Linked DNA regions of Homo sapiens. The gene in region 1 interacts genetically with each later gene. Each region holds a gene or a part of one and is shown in the gene's direction. Other genes may lie near its edges.

Region 1 (3,809 bases):
GGGTAGGGTGCACATGGACCAGAATTCACAGCCCTCACTCCCTGAGTGCAGAGCTGGCCCTGACTCTGCAGGACTGCAGACCTGGCTCCACCACTGTGCTACAGACGTGGTGGCTCAGCCTCCTGTGGCTGCGGTTAGATGCTCAGCCGGGCGGGGTCAAGAGAGGGGTGTCCGTGGTGAGACCAGGGCTCAGAGAGGAGCATGCTGACATGGATCCTTGGCAGCATCTAGGCGGAGCACTGGAAGGAGCTCCAGACTGGAGCCCAGGGCCCTTTTCAGTTTCCTGAGCATGGCTGTGAGCCAGTTCCTTCCCGGTGTCAGGGCAGGGGCCTGGAGGAGGTGGTCTTGAAGTGCATGCCACAGATCTTCCTTCCCAGGGAGGGCGAGCTGGCACCATGGTGTGGCACAGACCCCGCGTCCCTTCAGATTCTGCCATGCCAGGCTGTTTGGCCTCAGGGAAGCAGCTTCCCTGACCAGTCCTTAGCACCTGGCACGTGGTGAGCCCTGTCCATGGCACCAGTCACCGTCACCATCAGTCAAGGGACTGCACCTTGGGGTGCTGGGTGCTGACGTCCTATGGGAGGGCTCCAGGGGTGCCGCCTGTCTGGTGCTCTGGGGGTCACCCAATGAATATGAGAGCCTTCCTGGGAGAGAGGGGTCTCGTTCAGCACCCCTCCTGAGGACCCAGCCCCACCCCAGGGTGTGAGGATGCAGGCCAAGGGGGCCTGAGGGAGCTGCAGTAGGGTCTCAGCACCTCCTCAGCCTCCTGGTTCCCCCCTACCCCCTGCGCACAGATATCCAGTTCTGGAACAGCCGGCAGTCCCTGGAGGGCCTGTCCGTGCGCTCCGTCTTCTTCGGCGTTTTCCAGTCATTCGTGGTCCTCCTCTACATCCTGGACAACGAGACCAACTTCGTGGTCCAGGTCAGCGTCTTCATTGGGGTCCTCATCGACCTCTGGAAGATCACCAAGGTCATGGACGTCCGGGTAAGGCTGGGGCGCCATGCTGTCTCGGGAGCTGCAGGGGTTGGGAGGGGGTAGTGTGGCCCAGCTGGACCCTGGAGCTGGCCCCCGGGGGATTCCCAGCAAGTGCCTCACTCCCAGGACTGAGGGGATTTTCTCACCAGGGGATTTTTTGGGTCACACATGGGGCAGGGGAACTGGGAACGGTGGGGAAGGGCAGGGGCTGGTTCTGGCTTGTGGGGTGGGAGCCAGCGTAGCAACTGACCATGGCACCCACCTCATCCACAGCTGGACCGAGAGCACAGGGTGGCAGGAATCTTCCCCCGCCTATCCTTCAAGGACAAGTCCACGTATATCGAGTCCTCGACCAAAGTGTATGATGATGTGAGTGTCCTGCACAGTGGGCCCCTGGGGGTGGTCTCCAGGTACCACGTATCCCTGAGGCACCCGGGGCCGGCCATCTGTCTGCCGGACCCATGCTTTACAGCCTGTGCCACATCCTCTGTGTCCCCCATCTGCCATAACTGCTTCCCTGGGCGAGTCCGGAGTCCCCAGGGCTACCTGGAAATTCCCCCTGCCCGGCCTGCCAGACCAGGTGTGGTGGGTGAGGGCGGGGAGCAGGGCTGCCAGGCAGGGCTGAGGAGCTGGCTGACAGCCCCACCCTGTGGCCCCACAGATGGCATTCCGGTACCTGTCCTGGATCCTCTTCCCGCTCCTGGGCTGCTATGCCGTCTACAGTCTTCTGTACCTGGAGCACAAGGGCTGGTACTCCTGGGTGCTCAGCATGCTCTACGGCTTCCTGCTGACCTTCGGTGAGCGGTCCGGCCGCCCCAGGAGAGAGCAGGCCCCATGCTGCGCAGGGCTCACAGCCCCAGTGTAGGAGACAGACCCATCCCCAGACAGGGACAACCTAGGGTGGGCAGAGCTGGGATATAGGGAGGCCCGAGGGCACACATGGCCCCATCTGGGGTCAGAGAGGACTTCAGGGAGGACATGAACAGTACGCTTCAGTCCTCATTCTCAGGGGGCCTTTGTGTCTTGGGAACAAGTAAACAAGTAGGGCCAGGTGCAGTGGCTCACACCTGTTATCCCAATGCTTTGGGAGGCTGAGGCAGGAGGATCACTTGAGCCCAGGAATTCGTGACCAGCCTGGGCAACTTGGCAAGACCCGATCTCTACAAAAAAACACAGAAATTATTGGGGAGTGGTGGTGCGTGCCTGTAGTCCCAGCTACCTGGGAGGCTGAGGTGGGAGGATCCCTTGAGTCCAGGAGGTTGAAGCTGCAGTGAGCCATGATTACGCCACTGCACTCCAGCCTGGGTGACAGAGTGAGACCCTGTCTCAAAAAACAAAAGACCGGGTGAATCACAGCCAATAGTGAGTACTGTGAAGGGCAGAGTGGTGGGAGGATGCACATTAATAGGGGTCCGGGGGCCCCTCTGAGGACAGGACATTTAAACAGAGGCCTCAGATATCCAGGGAGAGAGCTGTGCGGATGTGACAGAAGGCCCCACCAGTGCAGAGGCCGCTGGTAGAGTGTGCCCAGGTATAGGAAGTGGTAGAGTGTGCCCAGGTGTAGGAAGTGGTGAGGGGGCTGGTATGGCCAGTGCAGAGTGCACAGGGGAGAGGTGGGAGAGGCCATCCCTCTGCTCATGGGTGCTCTCACTGCAGGCTTCATCACCATGACGCCCCAGCTCTTCATCAACTACAAGCTCAAGTCTGTGGCCCACCTTCCCTGGCGCATGCTCACCTACAAGGCCCTCAACACATTCATCGACGACCTGTTCGCCTTTGTCATCAAGATGCCCGTTATGTACCGGATCGGCTGCCTGCGGGACGGTGAGGCCCGGTGGGCAGGTGGGAGCTCCCACCGGAACAGGGCCCTGAGGCAGTCTTTAGGGCCCAGGCCTGAGGGGGTGCCACGGCCCCAGATGGGGTGCTCAGTCTGAGGGGGCTCGGCCCCGCCCTTGCATCACGCCCTCTCCACCCAGGCCCACCTGGCTGTGGACGGGCCAGCCCGACCTCACACTGCCTCCCACCCCTCTCCAGATGTGGTTTTCTTCATCTACCTCTACCAACGGTGGATCTACCGCGTCGACCCCACCCGAGTCAACGAGTTTGGCATGAGTGGAGAAGACCCCACAGCTGCCGCCCCCGTGGCCGAGGTTCCCACAGCAGCAGGGGCCCTCACGCCCACACCTGCACCCACCACGACCACCGCCACCAGGGAGGAGGCCTCCACGTCCCTGCCCACCAAGCCCACCCAGGGGGCCAGCTCTGCCAGCGAGCCCCAGGAAGCCCCTCCAAAGCCAGCAGAGGACAAGAAAAAGGATTAGTCGAGACTGGTCCTCACCTGCTCCGGCTCCTGGCGACCACTACCCCTGCGTCCCGGCCCCCTCGCCTCCCCTCCCTGTCGCCCTTTCCCTGGACAGATCAGGCCGGGGCGGTGGGAGGCCCGCCTCAGGTCAGGGCCCAGCGTGTGATGTAGGGGCCGGGGCAGGCCAGGGTTTGTTTGTGGAGGCGCTGTCTGTCCCTCTGTCCCTCTGTGTTTCCAGCCATCTCGCCCTGCCAGCCCAGCACCACTGGGAATCATGGTGAAGCTGATGCAGCGTTGCCGAGGGGGTGGGTTGGGCGGGGGTGGGGCCGGGCCCCCCTACGGGATGCCCACGGCCGTTCATCATCTTGTCCCTCGTCCCCCTACCACACTCCCCCTCCTAGACCGCCGCCCTTTAACACAGTCTGGATTTAATAAATTCATATGGGTGTTTAACTTAAACTCAGCACTGCCCCTCCTCCTCGTGCCTTCCTTCCTCTGTTGCCTTGGACAACAGCTTCCAGCAGGGATGAG
Region 2 (3,809 bases), on another chromosome or scaffold:
GAGGGTCTCAGAGCCTCTTTCAAGGGCCAGGGGAACACAGGGAGGTCTGGCTGATTACGCAAAGAGTATAGGACCTAGGAAAGCATCTCCCTCCCAGTTGGCTAGTAGTTTTAGTAAGAGGGTTCCAGTAGTTCCCCAGGGACTCTGGCAGCCAGAGAGAAATATAGGAATGGCTAGATGTAGAGTTCCCTGGAAGCAATGGACCTCAGTGACACCTTCACTCAGTTTGCCTCTTCTGCCTCTCTTGGTTGAGCCATAGTCAGCTTCAGAAACCTCACAGCCGGGCTGGGTGCAGTGGCTCACGCCTGTAATCCCAGCACTTTGGGAGGCCAAGGCGGGCGGATCACGAGGTCAGGAGATTGAGACCAGCCTGACCAATGTGGTGAAACCCAGTCTCTACTAAAAATATCAAATTAGCTGGGCATGGTGACGTGCGCCTGTAATCCCAGCTTCTTGGGAGGCTGAGGAAGGAGAATATCTTAAACCCAGGAGGCAGAGGTTGCAGTGAGCTGAGATTGCGCCACTGCACTCCAGCGTGGGCAACAGAGTGAAACTCCGCCTCAAAAAAAAAAAAAAAAAACTCATGGCCTACCCTGCTCTCATCTCCAGCTACTCAGCATAGAGCGACTAAACCTTTATGCTGCTTCCCTGCGAGTATGCTTCCTACTGTTTGAGAGCATGCGAGAGCACCTCAAGTTCCAAATGGAGGTGAGTTTCTTGATGTGGAAAGAAAAGGGGGAAAAAAAATAGGGAGATATATGGCATCTTCAGTGGGGCCAGCTCTATCATGCTACAGGGGTAGGATTTAGGGACTTCCTATAGGAGAGTCCTTTTAGCCTCCAGAGTTCGGTTCAATCAACTGGCCTCTTTTGTGGAAAAGTTAAAAGGAGACCAAAGGAAACTGGCTGACCCCAAATATGAGAACTGCCAGGTAACCTTACCATGAATAGGGACAGCTCTTCTGCCCAGCAGTTACTCTGCAACACAGGTAGGTAAGTCAAGCCAGCATTGTCACTAAATTGCTAAAAGGAACTCTAAATAGGACCAGGTCATGTTCACATAGCACAAAAGGGCAAGAGGCAACTTGTCTGGGACCAGGTATGTGGTAGAGAGCCAGGCCTTATCCCCCAACATGGAGGCCAAAGAAGAGATATATTTAGGGGATGGAATACCTTTGGGTGTCTCTTAATACATGCCTCTAGGCTGGGCTTCTGCATCCTGTTTAATGTTTTTCCTGTCTAATTTTTTCTCTTCCTATCTTGAATCCTTTCCCCACCCAAATGGCAATTACTGGGTTATTGCCAGATGTACATCAAAAAGCTTATGGAGATCATCACTGTGGAGAACCCCAAGATGCCTTATGAGATGAAGGAGATGGCACTGGAGGCCATTGTGCAGCTCTGGCGCATCCCCAGCTTTGTCACAGAGCTCTACATCAACTATGATTGTGACTACTACTGTTCCAACCTCTTTGAGGAACTCACAAAGCTGCTGTCCAAGGTGCTGAGCACTATAACTGGCTTCTAGGAAAAAACGCATTATAAAGGAAATCTCCCTGGTGGTAGTGAGGATGTTACATACAGAGAGGGGAACACTTGAGAGCTGGGAAATAGAAGAAAGGCATTTTCTTTTCTTTTCTTTTTTTTTTTTTTTTTTTTTTTTGAGATGGAGTCTCACTCTGTTGCCCAGGCTGGAGTGCAGTGGCGCGATCTCGGCTCACTGCAAGCTCCACCTCCCGGGTTCACACCATTCTCCTGCCTCAGCCTCCCGAGTAGCTGGGACTACAGGTGCCCACCACCACGCCCGGCTAATTTTTTGTATTTTTAGCAGAGACGGGGTTTCACCATGTTAGCCAGGATGGTCTCGATCTCCTGACCTTGTGATCCACCCGCCTCGGCCTCCCAAAGTGCTGGGATTACAGGCATGAGCCACCACGCCCGGCCAGAAAGACGTTTTCTAAGGGCAATGTACAAGTTAGAAGAAGTTTTGGAAATTTTAGAAAATGATCAAAGTGTAAAGTGTTCTCCTAACTACAAGTCCAATTGATCTGTTTACTTTCCAGAATGCCTTCCCTGTGTCTGGTCAACTCTATACAACACACCTACTATCTCTTGATGCCCTATTGACAGTGATTGACAGCACCGAGGCCCACTGCCAGGCTAAAGTCCTCAACAGCCTCACCCAGCAAGAGAAGAAGGAGACAGCCAGACCAAGCTGTGAGATAGTAGATGGCACCCGAGAAGCTAGCAATAGTGAGAGGCATTTCTTTCTTTGATGAACCCAGTGTTCTATGCTTATCCCTTCTCTACTCTCTGAGTCGTTTTTCCTGTCCCCATATCACTTCCCCTGGGATGCTCCCAATTCTGTTTCTGGGCTTTGGCAGTTTAAATCACAGGCCAGTCAGGCAGATTAGTAGAACTCATAGCCTTCTCCCTTTTTCCTCCTCCCCACTTTGGTTTTTTACAGAATTATTATTTCTTTATGGCAAGAGAAGAGAACAGAGATTAAAGAATATAGGATTTCTGTCTCTGAAAGCTCCAGGTCCCACCATCCCTCATCCCCAATATCTGCCTCCACTCTAATTAGTCCTCTCTAGCTCCCCCTTGAAATTTGAGGTTGCAGAAGATCAGGGAAAGTGACTGGGTAATCTCTTCATTAAATTAGAGAATCTAATGCTTGGCTGGGACAGGGACTACTTATTTTGGCTTGGGTTTGTCCTGCTCAGGGCTGGCGCCCTGTGCAGGAACCATGCAGGTCTTCTGGGCTTGGGATTTGATCTATCCTGCAGCTCTGCTTGGCTTCATACCCTATAAGTCTTCACGTATCTTCTTCTCTCTTACCAGCTGAGAGAACTGCCAGCGATGGGAAAGCTGTAGGCATGGCCTCAGACATCCCAGGCCTGCATCTGCCAGGTGGAGGGCGGCTGCCACCAGAACATGGGAAATCAGGATGCAGTGATCTGGAGGAAGCTGTTGACTCTGGGGGTGGGTACTGGGTGTCCATGACCCTAAGCTCCTCACCTGGAGGGCCTGGTGAAGAGCAGAGGGAGGGAGCAGACACCTAGGATAGTAACTAAGCAAGCCTTGGTAGCCCGCCTCGCCTTCAGACTCAGAGAGAGGGAAGCAAACATATGGACCCTCAGTTGATAGGACTTCCAGGGAAGTGGAAGACTGGTGAGGACAAGATTTCTGAGGCTCCTTCTTGAAACTGGGGAGTATATTGGTGACCTTCCAAAAGTCCTTATCTGGGTAAAAAAAGGTGTTACAGATATTTCCCCCCTCTTCTTCCTACTCCTAGCTGACAAAAAGTTTGCCCGGAAGCCACCCCGATTTTCCTGTCTCCTGCCAGATCCACGGGAACTAATTGAAATTAAAAACAAAAAGAAGGTACATACATGTATTCCCCAGCCTCTGTCCACCTCTGTCTGGGTGTCCAGTGTTGTAGGGTTTCCATCTCAGAAGATGAAGGAGAGTCTAGCACCTCATTGTACAGCTTCCTGAGGCCAGTCTTTGGGCTTGTTGGGACTTCAGCAACTCCCATTTGAAGCCCTTCCCTTACTCCTAAGCTATGTAGTTGAGCATACCCTATGTATGCCCCTGCGCAAATGCTGTACCAGTTGAGAGCCAAGTGTCACTAGTGGCAGTGACAGGAGCCTTGGGAGTTGGTGTCTTGTGGGTCATTGAAGGTTACTGTCATCTCCAGCTCTTGCAAGATGATTGGCAATAAAGGGAAATTGATATTCATTCTGGTGCTTTAGTAAGGTTCAAATAGTAAGGTTCAAATAACTGTTTGTACTTTGGATTTCTTTT

The links.
Region 2: changes in CLPTM1 (region 1) and GBF1 together harm fitness more than expected from each alone (negative genetic interaction), as found in Homo sapiens cells (one study listed by BioGRID).

What each region holds. Positions count from the first base shown.
Region 1 is NC_000019.10:44,989,601-44,993,409, forward strand, and holds the end of CLPTM1 (putative lipid scramblase CLPTM1), read left to right. Parts: intron 1-794; coding exon 795-985; intron 986-1,249; coding exon 1,250-1,345; intron 1,346-1,637; coding exon 1,638-1,773; intron 1,774-2,632; coding exon 2,633-2,800; intron 2,801-3,010; coding exon 3,011-3,297; 3' UTR 3,298-3,741; downstream 3,742-3,809. UniProt on the Homo sapiens protein: Involved in GABAergic but not glutamatergic transmission. Binds and traps GABAA receptors in the endoplasmic reticulum (ER).
Region 2 is NC_000010.11:102,360,413-102,364,221, forward strand, and holds part of GBF1 (Golgi-specific brefeldin A-resistance guanine nucleotide exchange factor 1), read left to right. Parts: intron 1-609; coding exon 610-708; intron 709-1,305; coding exon 1,306-1,500; intron 1,501-2,062; coding exon 2,063-2,252; intron 2,253-2,843; coding exon 2,844-2,984; intron 2,985-3,297; coding exon 3,298-3,386; intron 3,387-3,809. UniProt on the Homo sapiens protein: Guanine-nucleotide exchange factor (GEF) for members of the Arf family of small GTPases involved in trafficking in the early secretory pathway; its GEF activity initiates the coating of nascent vesicles via the localized generation of activated ARFs through replacement of GDP with GTP.